Linked DNA regions of Homo sapiens: all the other regions are reported to be linked to region 1. Evidence: microRNA targets listed by miRTarBase, many of them from high-throughput screens and not tested one by one. Region 1 holds a microRNA gene; each other region holds the end of a gene's coding sequence.

Region 1 (8,728 bases):
CAGAACATGGGTGACATAATAAATGTTTTTTAGTGTTTTAAGCATCTAGGTTTTAGGGTAACTTGTTATGCAGCAGTAAATAACTAATATATTTTGGAAGGTGGAGGCGGGATGTTACTGTAACAAAAACCTAAAATGTGGGAGATGCTGTGGATTTGGCAGTGGGAGGAAGCTGGCAGGACTTTAAGGAATGTTAATGAAAGCCTAAAGGACTTTCAAGGGACTGTTAGCAAAAGCATGGTGACATTTGAGAAGGTTGTCTGTGAGGGCTTAAAGGAAACTGAGGCGACTCATTGGAAACAGGTGGTTATGCAGTGGCAAAACGTATAGCAACGCTGTCGTCTACAGAATGTGGAAAATAGAAAATGTATCCTGTGAACTGAGTTTTAAAGGTGCCCCTGATTTTTTTTCCTGCTATTTATACTAGCAGGAACTGTTGGACATTCCCAGCCTCTCCATCTTCAGATGGCAAAGATGCTAAAGGTAAGAACTGGCTTCTTATCAAAGATCATACATATCCAGGGCCCTCTCAAGAAAAGAAGATCGAAAGATGACATCCAGTGTGTGACTGCAAAATCCCAAAGAACTGTTCAGTCAAACAGCAGGACTTCTGCATATGTTAAAGGTGTTGCCATTTAGCAGTCTCAGTAGCAGCCTAAAGGTAAAGAGAAAGATTTATTTTAAAGAGATTTACGGGCGTGACTTCTGTCAAATGGAATGAGCCCATCAAGGAGGCTCCCAGCTACTGGAAAAGAATTGCTTTGGCAGAAACACCAGCTTGGACTGAAAGGGACAGAGGTACAAATGAAAAGTGGCTTTGAACCCTCAAACATTTGCAGGCAGGAAGACTGAAAGACTACTCAGTTTCAAACGTAGTCTACAAAGGAGGAATGACGGAAACATGGAAATAAGGCCGGCAGGGCAGAGCCAAGAAGCAGGGAGACTCATTCCCAGACAGGAGTAGGACTGAGTCCTATTCACGTAACTTTCAAACTGTGCCCAGATGGATTTCAGAATTGGTATGGACCAGTGATTCCTGTACGGCTCCCATTTCCCCTCTTTTTAGACAGGAACGTCTTAGCAGCTATCTTGTGCCTGTCACATCATCATATGTTGGATGTGTGACAGGCAAATAATTTGTCTCTTTCATTCATAGATCCTCAGATCAAGAGAAACTGGATCGGAGTAGCCTCAACCACACTTGGGCCTGATTCAGATCTTGAGATCCTGGATTTTTCAAGGTGATGCTTTTACAGGATGAGACTTTGGGGGGCATTGAGATGACTGTAGTTTGCATGCAGGAAGGACATGAGTCACTGGGGGTGAGAGGGCAGACTATGGTAGCCAGTTTCCAAGAGAAACCCAATGCCCCCGACCTCCTGGTATTCATACCCTCATGTATTCTCTTCCAAAATGAGCATGGCTTAAGGGTGTAACCAATAGGATATTGCAGAAATCATGGAGTATGACTTCGCAGGCTAGGTAACAAAAGATATTTTGGCCTACCCTTAAGTTCTCTGGGATCACTCATTAGTGGGGTAACCAATGACCATGCCATGAGGACACGTCAGCAGCCCTGTGGAGAGGCCCATGCAGCAAGGAGCTAAGGGCACCTGCCGACGCCAGCCCCATTCCAGCCTGCCAGTCATGTGAGTGGGACATCCTGAAATCATTGCTTTAAGCATCCAACTCGTGGGGTGATTTGTTAATGCAGTGATAGACAACTAGTAGATTTTGGAATGCAGAAGAAAGGTACCTCAGTAACAAAAACTTAACATTTGGGAGAAGCTGTGGATTTGGTGGTATGCAAAAGCTGGAGTGTCCACCCCCTGTACAAAGCTCTCAGCCACTGTGGTGCTGGTGGGGTCCTGGCTACAGCTTCATAAGAAGTTTCTAGTTAAGCCACTCCCAAATTCCTGGTCCACTGAATCAGTGCAAGGTAATAGATATTGCTGCTTAAGACCACTGAGTGTTAGGTAATTTTTTTATGCAGGAATAGATAATGTTTCCCAATACAAAAGTATAGGGAAGCAAAGGGAAATTGGAGAATATTGAGGAATGAAAGCAGAGGTAGCACATGGGATTTAAAACAACCCATTGTTTTACATAAATGGGATCATATTTTATTTACTATTCTATGACATATTTTATACTTAAATTTTATGTAATTTTTTTCAGTAAAAGGAAATGACATGGCATTTTCATGATTTTTAAGAAAGGAATAGTTATTAAAATTTTATTGTGTGTGGTTTTCCTTTTTTTTCTTTTTTTTTTTTTTTTTTTTTTTTTGACAGAGTCTTGCTCTGTCACCCAGGCTGGTATGCAGTGACGCAATGTCGGCTCACTGCAACCACCGCCCCCCAGGTTCGAGTGATTCTCCTGCCTCAGTCTCCCAAGTAGCTGGAATTACAGGTGCACACCACCACGTCCAGCTAACTTTTTGTATTTTTACTACAGTTGGGGTTTCAACATGTTGGCCAGGCTGGAGGGCCCCTTGAACTCCTGACCTCAGCTGATCCACCCGCCTCAGCCTCCCAAAGTGCACCTGGCCTATGTGTGCTTTTCCAAACAGAAACATTAGTTCCAGTGAAAGAAAAAAAAAGTGGGGTACACTGCACCACCAGGAAAGAAATTTAAAGTATACCACAATCAAAAAAATGAATTAACAACCTTATTTTATTCTTAATAAATAAGACGAGAGGATTTTTTAAAAATCCACCTACACTCCTACCACAGTGATAGTTGGTTTTATTTTCCTCACGTTTTTTCCAGGTTTTACTCAAAAGTATTTGATTTTACACGGTTAAAATCAAACACACAAGTTTTATTCTTTGCTCGCTTAATGGTACATCTTACAGATTTTTCATGTTATTCCACAGACTTTACGTGTATCATTATTACAGATGTATGACAGTCCCTTCAGTTTCTTCAAAAATTTATACATTTCTCACTTTCCAGCCAGATGTGCAAAGAAAATGTGGGTTCTTTATCCTTTATAAACACTTGGATATTCTCATGAGCCCACTCCACCGGGAGTAAGGAAGGACACATAAACTTTGAACTTGAAACTTTATGTTACCACAGTCCCTGCCCAATTTCACGAGCTCTTGGGTGACTTCTGAGGCGGGTAAATAACGTTTCCTGCTTCTTCCACTCTCTTGCTCTTCTCCAAGAGGATGTGGGCCTGGAGTGGTGCCCATGCCTTCGCAGCGCTGGAGGCCTGTGCTCCTTCCATGGGTCCCCACCTTGGATCCTGTCCTGGGTGCACATTGGCTGGTTCCACTTAAGTGAGAGTGAAATGGAATCCAGCTGAGAAATGTGACTTTCCCTTTAGTACGGGCATCCCTCCCAAAGAGCCTGGCTGTCTCCCACTGCTGGCGAACCCCACCTCAGCTCCTGCTGTGCGGTGGGGCCTCTTGGCGTCCACTTGTTACATTGCAATCCCACCTGCCCCCAGTCCAGGCAGCTCACCTGGCCGCTCTCATCTGCAGGGCCCCTCCAACCCCACCTTGGCAGACTTCTAGGGCAAGCTCCCCAGCAAGTAGCTCAGATCTACCCTGCATCCCTAGGACGTCGGGGTCCCTTCCCACGCCACACAGCAGCTGATGCTGCTCTGGCACTCAAGCTTGTGCTTCATTTCCATTTGTAATCTAGGGAAGGCCCTTGCCCCTGTGCTCTCTTCGCAGGAATTCTGAAATGAGCAAGGCCAAATGCCCTCTTCCACAGGCCTTCTAGCCAACCCGTCTAAAGCACCTCCCTGCTGTGCTTCTGCATCCCTGCACCTGCCTCTTCTGCTCCCGTGGTGGCAGGATGGGGAGCAAAACCGAAAAACATCTGGGAAAGAACGCAAAGGAAGACAAAAAGCAAGCAGGACCCTTACCACAGGAAATAAGCAGCTGAAATGAAGGGGGAAACCAGGAGCATTGATCGAGAGCATGGGGAATGGTCTAGTGCCCCAAACAAAAAGTGTTAGGTGCCCACTGGCTTCAGCAACATGCAGGTACTGGGGGACCTTGAAATGATGCCGTTTCGGTGGAGTGGAGATGAGGAAGTCAGCCAGCCTGCAGTGGCTTCGGGAACAAGTCGAGGCAAGAAAGGAAGACAGTGGATGTAGACACTGCTTTCAAGAAATTTGACTGTGAAGGGAAGGAAAGATATGAGATATGGAATGCAGGTGGCAAATGCAGCATCCAGTATTTTGGCTTTTTGGTTGGGGCAAAGGTAAATTCAACACTGATGAGAGCCAGCCAGTAGTGAGGGGAAGGCTAGCAATTCAGACAGCGTCTTTTCTGCAGGAGGGAGGTAGGGTTTTCTGCTAAGAGAGTAAGCAGCAGGGGCAGGAGGATCAAAGGACCCGGGTACCAAGAAGTTTGGAAAGAGCTTCCATGCTTAATGCAGGAAAAGCGGAATGAAGACATACAAGAATTACCAAGGAGTGCTGGATGCGCAGACGGCCTCAGCCAGCACGAATTGACTGGGGCAGTGACCTGGAAGGAGATGGGTGCACCTGTGTGCTTCCCAGCAAATCCCGACTTCAGGGTCCGGTCACAGAAGTGGTAAACCGTCCATGGTGTGGATGACTTCGACCACCTACCACATTTGTCAGTTCTCACCACACCGAGCACAGGAGCTCGAGTAAACACGCTAGCTGGAATGTAAGCTCCAGGAAGGCAGGACGGTGCTGCCCACCATGACACAGCTGAAGGGTCCTTAGAAATCACCTAGTCAAACCACTCCATTGACAAGGAAACCCCCAGTTTGGAGAAGGAGGCCGGAGTCAAAGGCAGACCTCCTGAGCTCCACTCCCAGACCTTTCGCCAGCACGGGGTGACCTCCAACTCCCTCAGAGAACACAGCCCTCCCCCTTTGGCTTCCAGCTGGAGCGTGAATTCCCGAAGGACAGCTTCACTAGATGCCCAGATTTAGGAAAACTGTAAAGCAGAAATATCATTCCATTTTTAAAGCAACACAACCTCCCCACGTGATAGCTATTAGTAAATAGCTCACAGCTGCGAGGAGGGGCTCCAAAGGACACAACACCCTGTGCCATGGGGTTTCCACGAAGATACATTCCTAGGTGTGGGCACGGTACTCCTCCCCTCCCTGCGGCAACGCGACGGGATGGCACCGGCGCGCTCTGGGGTTCGGAACGAGGCCAGCAGGGGGCGGTCTACACCACTGAGTGTTTTCCCAGCTCGGTTTGTTGTTTGGAAGGAAATTCACGTGTGATCAATCACACCTTAAATATCTTCTGTAGCTATAAATATCAAACATATGTTTTCTAAATGGTTTACACTCCTTATCTCCCCTTTTATAAGTTCAATAGTAGAGAGGTCGTGGTGAGGGACAGAGAAGGAACACCAGACCTGGGTCCGCTGAAGAAACAAGCCCAACAGGAAACTGCCAGGCGAGACCGCTCAGTTGCCTCCCAAACACAGATGGAAGACAGGATTTTCTGGAATCACAGCAAAAGAAAAAAAAAAGCCTCAGCTTTGAACATCTCGACAGCAAATTCAATGTCTAGTCTTTATTATTGAGCAAGTTCCCTAAAACTTCAAAGAGGTAAGCACATCAAAAAAGTACTAAGTATGAAACCCTGGGAATATAAACACATAAGAGACATCCTCCTGTCTTTGAGGAACTGATAACAAAGGGGAAAGAAGATACTATCTCAGGAGTGCTCTGAGCGTGGTTAAGGGCGTGATTCATCCCTATTTAATCAATATAGCTAGGGAAGAAGATTCCAACTAAGCATGAAAGAATAGATGGGACTCCAACCAGATTGTGGAGCACTGGAAACCAAGATAGTACATGTAGCCATTTTTAAGTTTGAATAGCAATTATCTTTCTAGTACGTAATCAGGGTGCAAAGCTTATACCCCTCATAAAAGAGTTTACTGAAGTTCAGCTACAACTTCCAGGTCAACACTTCTCCCCAACCAACCCACCTTTTACTTTGTCCCTCCCCCAAGGGGCTCAGGCCCACTACTGGGGGTAACTCAGCAGGACATAAGCCAAAATTAGGCCATCAGTATCGTGCTTTGGAACGGATTTCATTCTCGATTTTTGAATCCCTTGAATCTCTGTGGTATTGTTAGGAAGGATGGTGTCCTTTATATAGCTTTCCATAAAAAGTGTCTGATTTGTCTGGATGTCCAGCACATTTTAACAAACTCAAGCCTCTAGACCTGGGAGCTGGACCATTGCTTCTACAACAAAGGCAAGTCAGACACAGGGATGGAGCCAGTTCCTCTGGTCTCATGTGTGTGGGGGCCTTCCTGTGCCAATGAATCTACCTCTACCACTCACCCCACCCTAGCTGCATCCCAATCAACAGACAGAGCTTGGTGTGGTGGCACCACCTGTAGGCCCAACTACTCGGGAGGCTGAGGTGCGAGGATCACTTGAGTGCAGGAGTTGGAGGCTAAAATGAGCTATGATCATGCCCCCCCTGCACTCTAGCCTGGGCAACATGGAAAGACCCCATCTCTAAAAAATAGATACAATACAAAACAGACACCAAAAAAGAAGCACCAGAATTTACTTTGTTCTAAGGGATATAGGCTTTGTCACTTCAACAGTCAGGTCATGGGAGTTCTCAGAAAGTGTTTTGACATTTGCTCCCTAGCAGAGGAAAGTCATTTGTGAAACTATTTTTAAACAGCAAAACTAAAAAGGTGGGGTGCCATCTCAGATGCTCATTAGACATTGAGTCCAGAGCTGCTTTGGGGGGTAAGACAGAGACACTGTGCTCTAAATACCAGCACAAGCATGAAGGACAGCGACCACAATCTGTGCAGCCAGTCCACTTCTTTAGGAAATTCGATTGTAAATACTTTGGAGCTGATGAGCTCTCCTGTGTCATCTTCATATCATGAAACCTAATAAAGGTCTCCGAATGCCTGCTTCCCCAGCACCTCCACACAGTAACAATTTCTTGCAGTTTCCATTTCCCTCAAACCTCCCACTGTTGCTGCCACCCTATGGAAGATGATCTTATCTCAAATACTTCAGAGAAAATCTGAAGACGCCGGTGAGGAATTCTGACGCATCCTGACGCCATTTCACCAGAGCCTGTGCGCAGCAATGCCACTCACTGCATCTTTTTTTTTTTAAAACTAAAACGAGAGCCCTTTCTTCCTATCAAAAGGCAGCACTTCTCTAGATGCTTCCGAGTAGCCCTGGCCCACCCAGCCTCCTCAGGCACTCCACTCCCTTTTTCCCTCTTTCTCATAAAACCTCAGCCTTTTCTCACAAAATGCCTCTCCATTGGCATCCGTGCCTGCTCTCCTTTGCCCCTGGGAGCCCCCCCCCCAGGATTTGGTCCCCTCCAGCTCCTTGCTCTCTCTTCCCACCGGAGCTTTGTTTTGATTCATCTGGCCATCCGTCCGTCCACTCTTCCTCAGCCCCACTCCTCAGCACCCCCCAGTCGGACATCCAGCCACTAAAACACTCTCCTTTAGGCCAGCAGAGGCTTGCGTGATGATAAGCCTGCCATCTTGCTCAGTTTCTTCATGGCTCTTGGAAGCCTTGCACACCGCTAAGCTTCTTGAAACACCCACTCCCCGGCTTCCTGAGGAACCACTCTCTGTTTACCCTCTGACCCTCTGGCCACATTTTCTGAGTTTCCTTTCAGAGCTCCTGCTCCTTCTCCAAGCCTAGTTTGAACATTGGAATTTATCAAAATCCTGCTTTCAACTCACTTCAGTTCTCACTCTGTGATCTCTCTTCAAAGGTCTCACCCACTCCCATGGCTTCAAACATGTTCACAATGCCAAATTTCCGTCTCTCGACCCAATCTCTGCTCTGAATTCCAGCCCTCCAGATCAACTCCCAACTGCACATCCCCGTGTGAAGGTCTCACATTGCCTCAACCTCAGAAGGTCCCAAAACCAGTGCAGAGTCAGCCTCCCCCCAACACAAGCTCATCCCACTTCACAAAATGGTTCTTCCATGGGAAAGTCATTTGTGCTGAGGACAAACTCATCCTTGATCCCTTTGTCCCTCCGCACTTGCATCCAACATGGCATTGAGTCCTACCCATTCTGTGTCCTAAATATATTTCAACCTCATCCACTTTTCTCCGTCTCTACTCCCTGTAACCTAACCAAAGCAACTATCATTTCCATGGCCTGACACTCCCAAGAGCATCCTACAGGCTTTCTTTCCCCCATCCGTGCTCCAAACAGCAGCTAGTTGGGAGAACATTACTTCCACAAACTTTTAAGTCACTGAAACCGTGATCTTCAGCGTGGTGTCAGGCCCCATGCAGTCTCACCTCCAGCCAGTCCTCCTCTGGGACACATGCCCCAGACACAGGGCTGTATTTTTTATTCTTGGGTGCCAAGCTTTCTTTGACCTGGGAGGTTTCTTTCATGGGTTTGCTGTATCTCTAACCCTCTTCTTTCCTGCCCTCCTAATTCCCTTCTCCATCTCTCCTTCCCTCCTCCTCTATCCAATCCAACCAGACCAATTCTTTTCGTACCTTAGAGTCTTAACTTGAATGTTTCTCTCTTAGGGACATTTTTCTGATGGCCAACATCTTTAGAAAAGTTTGTATCCTCTTATGTATTCATAACATTTCTCCAACTGTGTGATTGCAACTACCCAATTGTAATTAAGTAATTACTTGTTTAAAGTGACATCTGCCTTTCTAAATGACCAGCTCCGTGATTTGTACATGGCTGGGCCTGTACATGGCTGGGCTCACCATTGCTTCCCTCCACCC
Region 2 (7,000 bases), not on the chromosome of region 1:
AGCTATGTGCTAAAAAAATTATCAAATGAACAAAATGTATGGCTAGGTATTTGCATTCAACATTCATATGTGTTTTAGTCTGCTCTAACAGGAATTCTCAGCGGTCCTTTAAATAAATCTTTAATGAATTTATTAAGCAACAGTAACATTTAGAATAGCTGCCATTTATCAGGTACCTACTATGTGCCAGGTAATATACCTGTCTTCTTTAAAGGTTGATTATATTTTTGTGTTCTGGGTGTTAGCAGTTCACCGAACAGTTTTGGATAATAATACCAGCTAAAATGTATTGAATAATTGGTATGGGCACCATCCAACTGCTTTACATGTATTGTCTCATGTAATCCTTACATCCTATGAGACAGATACTGTTATTTCTTTTGTAGATGAGGAAGCTGAGGCACAGAGAGGCTAAGCAGGTTGCGCACATAAGTAACCTACAATCCAGCATTTAAAGCCTGGATCAGCAAGGGCACAGTGGCTTACACCTGTAATCCAAGCACTTTGGGAGGCCAAGGCAGTCAGATCACCTGAGGTCAGGAGTTCAAGACCAGCCTGGCCAACATGGTGAAAGTCCACGTCTACTAAAAATACAAAAATTAGCCAAGTGTGGTGGTGCGCGCCTGTAGTCCCAACTACTCGGGAGGCTGAGGCAGGTGAATTGCTTGAACCCAGGAGGTGGAGATTGCAGTGAGCTGAGATCACACCACTGCCCTCCAGCCTGGGCAACAAAGCAAGACTTCTCAAGAAAAAAAAAAAAAATTAGAGTACTGCATCCATCTTTGTCTGTTTGTGTTTCAACCTGAGATTAATGTTGAATATTACTGTTTGTTTGTTTGAAGTCCTTGCCTGCATTAATTGAACAAGGAGAGGGATTTTCCCAAGTTCTCAGGATGCAGCCTGTTATCCACCTCCAGAGGATTCACCAAGAAGTCTTTTCCAGTTGTCATAGGAAACCAGATGCTAAACCTGAGAACTTTATAACACAGATAGAAACCACACCAACAGAGACTGCTTCCAGGAAAACCTCTGACATGGTACTGAAAAGAAAGCAAACTAAAGACTGCCCCCAGAGAAAATGGTATCCATTGCGGCCAAAGAAAATTAATCTTGATACATGAGCTCTTTCTGTTTATTTTGGGAGTTGAAAATAGGCACCATCAACATTTAGATTACAGCCTAATTAATACCTAGATAAGACTTCATTTGAAATAAGAAATAACTCTTTTACTAGTGATTCATTTATACAGATATAGTATCTCTGTGCGGGGATATGATATAATATTGTATTTCCTTACTGTTTTATCTATTGTAAATAAAAAGCATTTTAAAAAGTATTGACACAAAGCCCATCAGTGGGCATTAAAAATATTAAAAGTGCAGACTTTTACTGTCCTTAAGTGCCATCAACTCTCAGCTCCCTTGTAGCTTTTGTGGGATTTAACAAGTAACAAATTCTGTTGTGTTTCCCTGGTATACATCTTTCTAGGAAAAAAAAAAAAAAGAGAGAGAGCTGTATAATGATTTTTCGTTTACATGCTGAAAAGTAATTATCAGTTCTGCACAGCAGCAGATGCAGGGTTTTTTTTTAAAGATGTAGTTTGATTTATCAAATTAATGTGCTGATGATAATACTGGCTTTGACTTTGTTACTCCATGTTCAGCTAATTTAGGTTTGTGAGATTAACTTTAGGATTTTTTGTTGTGTAAGACAATGATAACTATTATTTGTGCAACATTACTCTTTGAAATAAAAATTGGCATGTAGCCAATGTTTCCTGCCCACACTCACTTTTTTCTATAGACCATTAACATAATTTGACTTGGAACTAATGGTTTCTTTTTAGGGTTTCTTATTTATTTCTTTACAAATCATTCCAGTTCAAAATATATATCAGATTAATACACTGGCAAAGTGTCATTGTGTTATTGAACTATTTCACATTTGAAGATGTTTATATATCAGGTATATAATCACTGGGAGAAGTCTGAGAAAACGATATTGGCTTTACTTCTAACATTTAACTATAGTTTCTTATAGCTCTTATTGTGTGTCTTACATTATACAGTGTAGGCAGGGCCATCAAACTTACCAACTGTTTCCCCTTTTGATGACTCTGATACCTTCATTCATTTTTCAAAGGAATTTACTGATCATGAGGTTGGAAAATCTGTATTTCTCTTGCTTATTATGTATTAATAATCATAAATGTCTAGATTCACCAGAAGTCACCAGAAGGTCTGTCTCAGTGAAGAAAACTTATAAAGCCACTTTGTTGCATTTTGTGTTTCAGTGTTACAGTTTGAGATCTGTATATTTGTACACAGCTATGTGTTTTTCATTGAAATAATGTACAAAGACTGATCTTGATGCTGTGTATTTTTATGAGTTGTCTTAGGCATTCCTGAGCTCAGCTTCAGTTGGATGGTGGGTCAGCACCCTGCGTTTCTGAACATACTAGACTTCAGTTTAAAACTGTTTTGAGGCTGTATAATATGTTGCTGTTTTTACAGTGCTAATGTTTTTATAGTATTAAAATTCTGTATGATTTGTTTCACTTCAGAGGTCCCCAAACAAAAGAGTTATTGTTAATTCTATTAGATTATATAAGCTACTTGCATTTTGATTATATAAGAACATGGTCCCTCCCTTTTAAGAGAGGTATATTGTGCTACATAGAGTTTTTAAATGACATGATAGATTTGCTCTGAAGTATTCAGCAGAGAAACAAGGAATCGATTAAGGAAATGTGACAAAAATCCTGTTAATGTTGAATCTGTGTAATGACTATATTCTACTTTGTGTTGGAAATTTTTATAAGTTTTTAAAAAATGGTTATATTTTAAAGTCCCCAGGCAGACAGCTGAGATTTGAAATCCTCTTGAGAGCCCAAAGTTTTACTCCATAGTTATAGCAGAGTTTAAAATAGAAATACCACTGGGAAAGACAGTACGTATTAGCATTATTAACTAAGAAAAGCATGACCAATAGCAGTAATAATATTGAATAAGTATACTGTGTAAGAGGAGAAGTTGCATTTCTGCATAGGCCAAGAACTAGTAAGCTAAGGATTAAAAGCAAGAAAGTCTGTAGTTTTAAGGAATTGGAAAGGTTGAAGGAAAAAATTGAAAATCAAATCTTGCTCTATGATAAAAAGAGTCTGGATTGAATAGGGTCTTAAAATTATCTTTCAGAAAAGAAATAGCCAGGCGCGGTGGGCTCATGCCTGTAATCCCAGCACTTTGGGAGGCTGAAGTGGACAGATTACTTGAGCCCAGCCTGGGCAACATAGTGAAACTCCATTTCTACAAAAAATACAAAAATTAGCAGGGTGTGATGGCACACACCTGTAGTCCCAGCCACCCAGGAGGCTGAAATGAGAGGATCACTTGAGCCCTGGAGGCAGAAGTTGCAGTGAGCCAGGATGGCACCACTGTACTCCAGCCTGGGTGACAGAGTGAGACCCTGTTTCAAAATAATAATAAGAAGAACACAAGAAGGTTAAGTCTAGTCCCAAAGAAGAGAGAACACTGTCAAAGCTGGTTTCTGAAAACTGGTACCAAAATCTACATTTGTTTATTTAGGCTACTATAACAGAATACCACAGGCTGGGTGGCTTAAACAACAGATACTTACTTCTCACAGTTCTGGAGGCTAGAAGTCCATGAGAAGGTGCTGGCAAATGCAGTTTCTGGTGAGGGCTGTCTTCCCGACTTGTAGATGACCACCTCCTTACTATGTCCTCACATGGCCTTTCCTCAGTGCATGCATGTGGAGAGAGGGACAGAGTGCAAGCTCTCTGGTGTCTCTTCTTATAAGGACACCAATTGTATCAGATCAGAGCCCCACCCTTATGGCCTCATTTAACCTTAATTATTTCCTTAGAGGCCCCATCTCCAAATACAGCTATAGGCACATGGGAGTTAAGGCTTCATCATACAGATTTTAGGGGGACACAAACATTGAGTCCATAACACAAGCCCACAGAAAATCTTATCCTAGACCTCTTTCCCTGGCCCTTTATGGCTTGGGCTCCGTAGAGGACAAAGTGAATAAAACCAAATTTTTTATTGCTTCAAACAGTATGATTTCATCTTGTAAGATGTACTTTTTCTTTTCTAAGGCTGAATTTGTTTGATTTCTGGTGAACACCTATCTTCTCTATCCACCTTCATTCATTTATTCATCTGTTCAACACATACAGTTGGACACCTACTCGGATCAAAAGTCAGAGATCTTAAGAGCACAGCCTCTAAGCCAGATCATCTGAGTTCAGATTTCAGTTCTACCATTATTAGTTCAATGATATTGGACAAGTTACTTAACCTGTCTATGATCAAAAGTCAGAGATCTTAAAGAGCATAGTCTCTGAGCCAGATCATCTGGGTTCAGATTGCAGTTCTACCATTATTAGTTCAGTGACATTGGGCAAGTTACATAACCTGTCTATGCTGCAGTTTTCTCATGTGCAAAATGGGGATAATAATTATGCCTACCTCATAGCGTTATTCTGAGAAGTAAATGAGTTCATAATGTGAAGGCCTTAGACTAATAACTGGTGCATATGAGTACTCTATGATCACTGTTATTACTTCTTTTGATAAAGGAAATGAAAACACTCAGGACAAGTGTTGCCTTCAGGAAGGTCATATTCCAGTGAAGAGGATGAGTGTGCAAACAATGATAATGCCATGCAGCAAATGGTATGATAGATGTATGTGTGGAACTTAGGGGAGTAGTCATGGAAGTCTTTGTAGAAGAGGTGGCATTTGAGCAGTCTTGAATGTTTTAGGCAAATAATCAGGGAAGGAATACAGGAATAAAGAACAAATTACTGTTATAACAATGTGGATCAATATCAAAGATACTATATTGAATAAAAGAAGCAAAGCCAGGCACAAGAGAATACATCCTGTGTATGGAATCACAGAATGGGCAAAACTAAGCCATGGTGGTTCCCTCTGGGGAGAGGGGAGATATTAACTGGGAATGGCACGGGAAACATTTTTGGGTGAGCAAAATGTTCTGTATCTTGATCTGAGTGGTGCTCACATGGCTGTATATGTATGTAAAATTTTGTTGAACTATACACTTAAAATTTCTGCACTTTATTTAAGTTTTATATTTTAAAAATGCACAAAACTGATTCACCAAATATTTGAGGAGCGTCTCCAGCATCAAAGACAGACCCAAAAACTGTAAGTCCCTTAATGGCAGGAATCTTTGTTCCATCCACCTGGAATAATTGCTGGCACATGATGGGCCCTCGATGCATAGTGGTTAACTGAGTGAATTAAAACAAAAACCAAAGAGAATAAAGGACCTCAAAGAAAACAGATACATACAAAGCAAAATCCCAGAATGATGACTGTACTCCCAGAAAGAAGAGAAAATCATACATTTTTTGGAAAATCGGAATGCTATTAAATAATGTTCAGTAAATAAGAAAAAGTTTTTGAAAATTAAAAATATGAAAGTTGAAATAAAAATTCAGTGGGAGGGCTGGGAGATAAAATGAAATTTTCCCAAAAATAAAACAGAAAGATTAAGAAATGGCAAATTAGAAAAGTAAGAATAAAGAGAATAAGTTCATAAAGTTCAAAGTCTAATCGATACCCATTCCAGAGATAGCATGCAGAAAAAGCAGCAGAGTCAAAATTATCAAAGAGATAATGCAGTTACCATATGGCCCAGCAATTTTACTCCACGTTCTAAACCTAAGAGAATTGAAAACATGCTCACACAATAACTTACACACAAATGTTTGTAGCAGCAGGTTGAACTTTCATGAACTGATGAATGGATAAATAAAATGTGGACTATCCACTCAATAGAATATTATTTGGCAATAAGAAGAAATGAGGTACTGGTAAATGCCACAGTGTAGATGAACCTTAAAACATGCCAAGTGAAAGAAGCCTCTCACAAAAGACTGCTGAATTTTGTAGACTCCATGTAAATGAACTGTCCAGAACAGGCAAATCTACAGAAACAAAAAATAGATCTGTCACTGCCTAAGGCTGGAAAGATGGAGAGGGTGGAAGGAATAGGAAGTGACTGCTAATGGGTATGGGATTTTTTTTTTTTTTTTTTTGTGAAACAAGGTCTTGCTGTGTTGCCCAAGCTGGAGTACAGTGGTGCTATCTTGGCTTACTGCAACCTCTGCCCCCGCAACTCAAGCCATCCTCCCACCTTAGCCTCCCAAGTAGGTGGGACTATAGGCATGCACCATCATGCCCAGCTAATTTTTGTATTTTTTGTAGAGACGGAGTTTCGCTATGTGGCTGGTCTCAAACTCGTGAGCTCAAGCGATCCGCCCACCTCTGCCTCCCAAAGTGCTGGATTACAGGCGTGAGCCACTGCGCCTGGCCTGGGATGTCTTTTGAGGGTGATGAAAACCCTCTAAATTTGATTATGGTGATTCACGACTGCTTGTTGAATATACTGAAAACCATTGAACAATACAGTTTAAAAGGGTGAGTGAGATGGTAAAGTATATCTCAATTTAAAAAGAGAATAAAGAAATAGAAATAACACAAGAAACATTCCCAGACCTGAGGAATACCAAGAGGAATTGGAATGGCATCAGATTACTAAACAACAATCCTAAAATCTAGAAGCATCTGGAGAAATATTCTCAGCATAAATGATATACAACCTAGGCTTTTATACACAGTCAAACTAATAATCAAGTGCATGATTAGCTAAAAGATATCTCAGATATGCAAAGCGTCAAAAAAAATTACCTCCAAGGCATCCCGTTTGGGGGTTCTACCAGGGGCTGTGCTCTATTCCAAAGGGTAAACCAAAAAAGCAGCAGCCATGGGATCTGGGAAACTAAGGCTCCCAAAACACAGCACACTCGAGTCTACAGGCTACTAACTAATCAGCAGATTTGGAGACTAGGCAGACCAGGTTGGAATAAGACTATGTAGGCCGGGTGCGGTGGCTCACACCTGTAATCCCAGCACCTTGGGAGGCCGAGACAGGCAGATCACC
Region 3 (8,728 bases), not on the chromosome of region 1:
CCAAGCTGTAACCAGAGTACTTCTCGTTGGTCAATTTTGAAAAAGGCAAAGAAAAACTTTTTTTTTTCTTTTTTTGGCCAGATGCAGTGGCTCAGGCCTGTAATCCCAGCACTTTGGGAGGCCAAGATGGGAGGATCACTTGAGCCCAGGAGGTCTAAGCTGAGGTAAGCCTTCATTGCGCTACTGCACTCAGCCTGGGCGAGAGTGAGGCCCTGTCTCAAAAAGATGTTTTAAAGAAAGCATCACGAGGTTCATCTGATCTTTTTGCTTACTGCTCTGTCAAACCTAAGAACCATTAAAAAATCAGGAGCTGCCTACCGGGCTGAAAAGGGCTGCCGGTCTCCTAGAAGTTGTTATTACAACGACAGCACTTTTTCTAAATTAACAGTTGTTCAAATCTTTGGTAATCTCATTTGCTGTTTGCCACAGCTCAGTGCAATAGACTTTTACCGTGGGCACTGGGCAGCTGAGGCACCGGGACTCAGGGAAATCAAGCGCCTGACGCTGTCTCACGCGATCGCACCAAACCAAGGAAGCAGCCAGTGCCTCCCGTCAGGCCCCGCGGAGCGAAGCACCGCCCCGCAGGCATCGGGCCAATCTCAGAGGGCGCGCACGCCGCATCAGGACCCCGGAACCCGCCCCGTTGGGGATAGGGACAGATGGAGAATCCAGCTCAGACCCAGGTAAGCTGCTTTGGAAGGCAGAGAACCGCCGGTACCTGCTTTAACGTTAGCGTCGCTGGGGGTAAGCGGGAAGCAGCCATGTCCACCAGAGGTCCGCCGGAGCCTCAGCGCGCAGGAGCGGAAGTGGGGTTCGACCAAGGGGTGTGGCGAGCCCGGTTTCCTAGGAGACGGCCCGCGGGTTGCTCTCGGACTGAGAGCGCGAGGCTTCGGGACTGAGCCCTAGCTGCTGCGCTGGCCGAAGTTTTCTCGTCGGTAAAATAGGATAACAGTGCACCATAGGGTCGTTTTGATAAAGAAGAAAGGTAGGGCACTTAACACAGTTCCTGGTAAAGAGAGTTCAAATGAAAGTGAAGGAGGCCGGGCGCGGTGGCTCTCACCTGCAGTCCCAAGCACTCTGGGAGGCCTGTAAGGTGCCTGTAATCCCAGCTCCTCGGGATGCTGAGGCAGGAGAATCGCTTGAACCCGAGAAGTGAAGGTTGCAGTGATCCGAGATCGCACCACTGCACTCCATCCTGGGCGACAGAGCGAGACCCTGTCTCGAAAAAAAAGTTAAGGTTTTTTTGGGGGAAAGAGGTGAAAACGTATTTAAATGTTCTTTCGAGCCTTTAAAAATGTGTATAGTTGAAAATACTAAAATTGAAAGTGTTAATTTCTTTTACAGTTTGTGTTGGTTTTTTCTCTTTCTCGTTTTTGTCCTGTTCTTTTGTAGCGCAAAGGTTTTCCGGGAGCGGTGGCCTTCATGATCATTTGAAACAAAGCTTTGAATGGCTCACCCACTTCAGTCTTAAGCACTTTTCATCACTAATAACGAGGAGCCTAACATCCCTAAGCCTCAGGCTTTTGCTTTTATTTCCTTATAGTTGTTTTATCTTTCCCACAATACACATGCCTTTGGGTTAAATCACTAGAAGTGGAGTTAGCGAATCTTTGCCATATTAATTTTCCAAGTGGTGTTGTATCGAATTAAAATAGAACGAAAAATGTTCAATTACTAGTTTACTGGGGACTTGCTTGCCTCGCCTGTTAGCATCCTGGGGCTCCCTATTCCTAGCTGTGTTCTGGCTATTTCCCCTCTCCTGGCCTATTACCTCCCCTGTAAAGTGAAATATAGCATCTACCTCAGTTGTGTATCTCTAATGTACTGAGAACAGGTCCTGGCACATGTAAGAACTCTAATCATTAGCTCTTTTGAACTTTACCAGGCATTGTATGAATGATGCTAACTGCATGATCATATTATCAATAATATATGCCAAATTTTGTCTAATACATTAGCTGTAATAGTTAATTGCTAACTTTTTAAAAGGAGTGAAGTTAAATACCCCTCGCCATTTTTAGTTATACTGTTTTTGTGAATTGTTCATGACTTGGGTCCGTTTATGATGAGGACATTTATATGGGCTCTATATTTTTTGTCATTTCTTTATACATACAGAAACTTTATACAATCATGTATTTTTGTGCCTTTTGAGGCTTTTCATTTCCCATTCAGGCCTTTGTAATTCGTTTTTTAAAAACTTTAATTTTTAAAATATTTACTCCATCTAGAATTTACTTTGGTTTACAGCATCACGTGGATCTAAGTTCTTTTCTAGATGTTAAGCTGTATCAATACCATTGATTACATAACTCATTCCTTTTTCGGGGCTTTATGATGGATGCCTTTTTGACTGTATGATAAATTCTTTTAGGGTCTGAGTAATCTGTCCAGAATTGTTTCATTTAGGGTTAAGTTTTTACTTTTTGTTTTATATGTTTTTATTATCTGGCAGGACTCTAGTTTCTTGTAAAAAATCCATTAGTACTGTTCTCTATAATCTTTAGAAATGTTTTGTATCATTTCCCTCCAAATCATCTTGTGATCTTGGTTGGAATTTTGAAGTAGTGTTGAATCTATACATTAATATGTGAGAAAGACATTTTTACATTATTTCTTCTTCCCATCAAGAAACACTCAGGCCAGGTGCGGTGGCTCATGCCTATAATCCCAACACTTTGGGATACCGAGGTGGATCACCTGAGGTCAGGAGTTCGAGACCAGCCTGGCCAACATGGTGAAACCTCGTCTCTACTAAAATACAAAAAATTAGCCGGGCCTGGTGGCGCACGCCTGTGGTCCCAGCTACTTGGGAGGCTCAGGCAGGAGAATCGCTTGAACCTGGGAGACGGAGGTTGCAGTGAGCCGAGATTGCGCCATTGCACTCCAGCCTGGGCAACAAGAGCAAAGCTCTATTTAAAAAAAAAAAAAAAAAAAAAAAAGGGCTCACTCTTGCTAGACACTGGTAATGCTGTCGTGAGTCACATATGCTCCTTGCTCAAAGACTCATGCTTTGGGCAGGAAAACCTCTAAGTTCAATATAGTGCTAACAAAGAATGCTGCAGTTCATACTGTGGGAAATTATTCTTCCTGGAGGGCTTGTCTGAGCTAGGTATTTGTCAGAAACGCAGAATCACTAAGAGGATTCCAGACAACACATGGAAACACTGGCAGGAATGCTGGGAGAGGAGGGACAGGAGAGTCAAGCAAGAGCCTCACAGGTCACATGAAGAAGCTTGAATATTACCCTCTTCACAAGGGAGAGCTTTGAAGGGATTTTCAGCTACAGAACTTTTAGAAAGATCTTGGATGTTGTGAATAGGATGAAGTGAAGCAAGCAAAGAGAAGTTACTGGCCTGGCCAGGATACCATTGAAGTAGTCCCTGCTAGAGATTAAAAGAGTCCCAGTCACAGTGCAGTAGGGGGAGGGGGAGGGATGGGACAGGATATCCAGAAGCCTGACTGGACAAGATGATTAATTAATTTGATTGGGGTATGGATAGAGATGGAGAAGGAAGTAAAGCAGATGTATAGGTTAAGTCCCAAGTTTGTAAACAGGGTGGCTGTTGGAGTGGTCATCCCAGATGGGGAATGTTGAAGGAATGGGTTTGGAATAGGGGAATTAGAACACAGTGACATCCAGCAGATGTCTGAATATAATTAAGAATACCAAAGAGTAGATTTCCTGGACCCCTGGATGGAGAATTTTACAGTCCTTTTGCTTCAGTGATGGTGGAGGCCACGGGAGTGGTGAAGAAGTTATCCAAAGTGAGATTTTATTGTTGTTGTTGAGATAGAGTCTTGCTCTGTTGCCCAGGCTGGAGTGCAGTGGCACAATCTCAGTTCACTGCAACCTCCACCTCCTGGTTCAAGCAGTTCTCCTGCCTCAGCCTCCCAAGTAGCTTGGGATTACAGGTGCGCGTCACCACACCCAGCTAATTTTCTGTATTTTTAGTAGAGATGGGGTTTCACCATATGGGCCAGCCTGGTCTCAAACTAACTCCTAACCTTAAGTGATCCACCCACCTTGGCCTCCCAAAGTGCTGGGATTATAGGCGTGAGCCACTGCACCCAGCCCCAAAGTGAGATTTTTAAGACAGCATGGAGGACTTTTGTGTTCTGCTGTCCATTCCTTAAATATCAGAACTTACTTACTTACCTATTTGGCCAAGGCCTGGGGGGTTGGGGGAGGGGGGGGTGGGCAGGATAGCACAAATGTCAACTATCAACATGGCAGATTAATTGATCACTACTCCTGCAAGCCCCTGTTGGCAGCACAAGTTGAAAATGGCACTCTTGGGTTCCTGCTTCCTGGAATTCCTACTGTCCATGATCTCATGAGCTAACCCAGGGCCAAGGGAATCACTCTGGGCACACCAGTTTGAGGTCTAAGAAAGATGGAGCTTCCAAAGGCAGATGTAATAGACTGCAGCATTGTCATAATATTGGTGTCTTTCCCTCCCAGACTCAACCCTACTGGAAGATTAAACTCCCTGCCCCATAGAGGGCTTTAGCCAATGAAATGTGAGTGGGATGCAACATCATCATTTATGGAGGATAATTAATTTTTATAAGCCTCCTTATAAGGCTACACCAACTCATCCTTTTCATTCTGCTGCAAAGCCAGCATATTATAGCTCAGCCTACCATGGACATAAATGCAAATGATAACCTTTGTAGTAAGAGCAACATGGAAGTAGGAGGGGATCATGTTAGCACAGCATCAACTAGTAACAGCTGACTGACTGATCCAGCAGAGAAGATCAGTCCCCTAGCATACCTTTTACAATCCTGTCATCTTCCATTAAGAAGAGTCACAAATTACATCAACAACAGTGGTATATGTTTTAATAGTTTTCAGAATATAAGCTGCATAGCTTTTTAGAATAAAAAATGATATAACTTCAGGTACATGCTTTGGGACACTTGGTTAAACAAGGAATCTGTGTCTTTGATGACCACCTCAAAAGGGTCGCAGACTTCACAGTGTAACTTGGAAACAGACAAGGAGATAGATGATTACATCATGACATACTGCCTACAAAAGAACATTCTGACAGAACATTAAGTAGAACAGAGCACACAGTTTCAAGTATTCAGCACTGCTTTCTGGCCAAGTAAAAACTGCCTAAAGATCAGTTTCTTTCGACTGGAAAAAATAGATGGAGCTGCTGAGTTCTGGACACAGCGTTTCTTTCCCAGAATGAGACTGGCTCAGTCCAGCTTGAAAGCAGTGTGAGGAATCACTCTTCCCCTTGACTGTTAAGAAAAAAAAAAATGAACTAAACAAATAAATTACTACAACAACAGGGACCATGGCACTGAATGAAATAAAGGGGCAATCACCTTCCCATCATTGCATAGTCTCCCGAAGCAGCAAGTGTGAAAGAGGATACTGAAAAGCCACTTCATTTTTACACAGCCCAAGGATCGTTTTTATAGATGACCTGGGCACCTATAATGTCCAGTTGCTTTATGAGAACACACACACACCACATTCTTCCTACCCTCTAAGAGAAGGTAGTTCCTTTCACAATAAGAAAACACACCCTCATACTCTCCAGAAACGAGCTGTCTTGGCCACTTGACAGCTTTTGGGCACACACTATGGGCTTGGCAAGGCAGAGCTTAGAACAGGGTCAAAAGGGCAGCTCCCTTTAGTCCTTTATACAAAGGACTGTCAGAGTCCCATGCTCCTGGCAGCATCTCCTCAAGGCACAGGTGCCCAGATCCCCTGCAAAAGAAAACAGGCAGCTGGGCTCCAACGGTGGGGTATGACCTCCTCCCAGGCCAGGGCTTCCAAGGCAGGGAAGAAGGATAACTCTTCTCTAGTTACGAGTTCAGGCACCTGCTGCTGCTTCCAGGTTTGGTATAAAAACCTCAGCCCAGGCAAAGCCGGGAGCCAGAGAGCATTCTGTAGGCTGTAAGATCACGTTGTAAAATAAAAATATTACAATAAAATTTTTTGTAGTTGTCCAAAAGGGAGCACCTGGGTAAGCAATGTGACCTTCTGACCACAGTTAAGTCTCACTTTGGACTCTTCTTTCTGTTCTATGGGTGGTCAGAGGCTGTCACCAACTCAAACCACTGTCTGAGGGCATCGCTGAGTGTCTCAGGAAGTGCGTTTACATCTCGAAGAATGATATAGTATGGGAATGGGAACTCTTCCATGTAGGATCGGATTTCAGGCATCTCTCCAGGTCCTTTAAATATCGGTACTTTAATGTCCAAGATAGAATCCTGTCAACAAAAGACATTTTGAAATGGGGAGGCAGCGATTAAACCAGCATCCTTAGCTAGCTCTTCTGTGATCTCTTTTGCTAACTTTTACATCTCCTGTGTCTTATTCCTGCATATGAACCTACCTTTTATTACTAAGTAAAAGAGAATTTTCAGAACTCTACTAAGAAGGAGGTAGATGTCTTTCTGAGTGCCCCTTCCAGGAGGATGGACACTGAAAAAAAGGAAAAGGGATAGACAGGAAAATCTGCTTTCCCTACAGTGGTGTCTCCCCATCATCCACTTGGAATCATTCACACTAAATCTTTACCTTCCTATCAAGGCCTTAATGTGACCCACAGAGACAATGCTTCCCTGGAACAGAACTGCCCTATAGGCATATTTCACTAAGATGATTGATGCTTCTTGCTGTGAGGAGCTACTGAGACATAAGTTAAGTGTGGCAACACCTAATCTCCATTTCAAAGTGGTCAGTACCCATTATCAAGGCTGCAATACCTGCACTGACTTTGCATAGAGGGAAATGATGACCCACAGAGGATGGTCATTCTGAATCTTGGCTCTCCCACTCATTACCTATAACCTCTATGTGTTTCAGTTCCTTCAGTGTAAAGTGGGAATAATGATCCCTACCTCACTGGCTTATTGCAAAGATTAATAGAGAAAATACTTACAAGTGCCTACAATGGTACTTGACAGAATACTATGAATGCTGGGAGTTCTCAGTATGACTGAGTGATCCAGGCCATATTTCAGATTGAACAGGTTGAAGGGAATCCCCACTTTACCTCCAGAAAAGGTGGCTTTTAGTAGTCACTCACCCGTGAACTGGGATTGTCCAATACAACAAAGATGACAAAGATATTTGCATTCCGGGCAGCCTGAACTGCTGCCAGGACTCTTTCTTTGCCCTCAAGGAAAAGGCCTCGCCCATCAGAGACTACCAGGAGGAGTTGTGCAGTTTCTGTAGACCATATAAGACGAAGCAAGGGAATAAAATGAACAGCCATTTTTAATAACTCACAACTACCCAAAGTAGGACAAATTAGTGTAGGCTTTCTCTGTACTATTAAAGCTAAACAGACCTCTAAAGCTGATGAATTCTGGGCACAAACCTAAGGGACCTCTGATGAGATCTATCCCTTAGAATGCTTGAGTCAGAGACAAGGCATAATAAGGGATACTAAGTAAGCTTCTGTCAGTATAGAAGAATTTCTCAATAGTGCTTCAAGAAATGTTAAGTTCTGCTCAACTTCAAATTGTAGAGCAACATACTGTACATGAGAATTAAAACACTAGTTTATGGCTATAAACTTTAAAAATGATAGTACTGAGAAGGGCATTAGAAGAAAGTGGCCAAATCAGAAATCTGGAACTGTGTCTTCCAAATTTCAGTCGTTACATATAATCATCTTTAGATTTCTGTTAATTCCTTGTACCTAATTTCTATATTTTTTTGCCCTTGAAATTTGACTTGTTTAAACAAAAACAAATAGAAAGGAAACACTCAACACTGAATAAAATGTTTTAAAATTTTTGCTACATAGTGTTTCCAGCTAAAGATTATATAGTACATGAGTTGAGGGTGGGCTGTTTTAGCAAATGTTGACAGGTGTGAATAACTTGCTTCCATCAAAATCTGAAGCTTCTGCATGATACACTGAGAACAGTGAGAGATTTTTGGAAAAGAACTAAATAATTGGCATGTTTCAAGCCCCCAAAGTAAATGTGGTTGGATTAGCTGGTTTTTATATTATGTCCTTCTCTACTTTCCTCTGTTATTAAAATATTAGAGAATACAGTACTTGCAGGGGGCTGGTTTCAGGACACACACCCCCTCACCCCCAGTATACCAGAATACACACATATTCAAGTCCAGAGATGGCCCTGGAGAACCCGCATACATGAAAAGTTGGCCCTCCATATACTCGGGTTTTGCATCCCTCAAATGCTGAATTTTCAATCCACTTTTGGTTGGAAAAACTCCATGTGTAAGTAGACCTGATCTGTACAGACAAACCTGTGGTATTCAAGGGTTAATTGTAGCCTTTATATTTAATTCCACACACACCTTGCTCCTTTCTCTTATAAATCTGAACTCAAGTAAGTATATACTAGTTAGTGTCTAGATCCCCCATTGATTATAAGCCTCATGAGTACAGGTTCAACAAAAATTTCTGAATGAATGAATAAATAAGTAAAAATCAGCTCCATCAATTTATGTCTTTTCCTGTGGAGCATACCTATTAAAACACAGTGACGGGGACACTGAGCTGAAGCAAGCAGCTTGGGAATATAGAGTACAAGAAAGCATTTTGTTAATGAAGAGGAAGGCATGCAGCTCACCTGAACTGATGTTCTGCGAGAGCTGCTGAGCAGCTGCAAACATGTTGGCAACAGACTCTAGAAACTAAACCGGAACCAGGAATAGACAATTAGAAAACTATGTGAATGCTCTTCTCATTGTCAAAGAGACTGATAGTATTTC

What was found. Region 1 holds the annotated microRNA hsa-miR-7153-5p (UGAGAACUGACAAAUGUGGUAGG, at 4,590-4,612, opposite strand). A microRNA usually pairs through its seed, bases 2 to 8, with sites in the 3' UTR of a target mRNA and lowers its output. Matches are read on the target gene's strand: a 7mer-m8 pairs with bases 2 to 8, a 7mer-A1 pairs with bases 2 to 7 and ends in A, and an 8mer does both.
Region 2: the mRNA of NSL1 is a reported target of hsa-miR-7153-5p. The part of its 3' UTR that is shown has no 7-base or 8-base seed match.
Region 3: miRTarBase lists MDN1 as a target of hsa-miR-7153-5p. Seed matches in the 3' UTR shown: 7mer-A1 at 5,477-5,483.

What each region holds. Positions count from the first base shown.
Region 1 is chr18:11,650,330-11,659,057 of GRCh38, forward strand. MIR7153 (microRNA 7153) reads right to left here and starts at 4,612; the gene lies at 4,556-4,612. RefSeq lists an enhancer at 7,422-7,591 and a cis regulatory region at 7,507.
Region 2 is chr1:212,732,529-212,739,528 of GRCh38, reverse strand. NSL1 (NSL1 component of MIS12 kinetochore complex) reads left to right here. Exons shown (of 6, transcript NM_015471.4): 6 at 843-7,000. The coding sequence ends at 1,121. Among named protein-coding and RNA genes, the nearest start is that of BATF3, 36 kb to the right of the region's middle. RefSeq lists a silencer at 1,556-1,756.
Region 3 is chr6:89,637,954-89,646,681 of GRCh38, forward strand. MDN1 (midasin AAA ATPase 1) reads right to left here. Exons shown (of 102, transcript NM_014611.3): 100 at 8,587-8,650; 101 at 7,062-7,204; 102 at 4,545-6,240. The coding sequence ends at 6,052. LYRM2 (LYR motif containing 2) reads right to left here and starts at 794. Exons shown (of 3, transcript NM_020466.5): 1 at 719-794. The coding sequence starts at 763. MDN1-AS1 (MDN1 antisense RNA 1) reads left to right here and starts at 579. Exons shown (of 4, transcript NR_111915.1): 1 at 579-683. RefSeq lists enhancers at 1-741, 94-323, 544-593.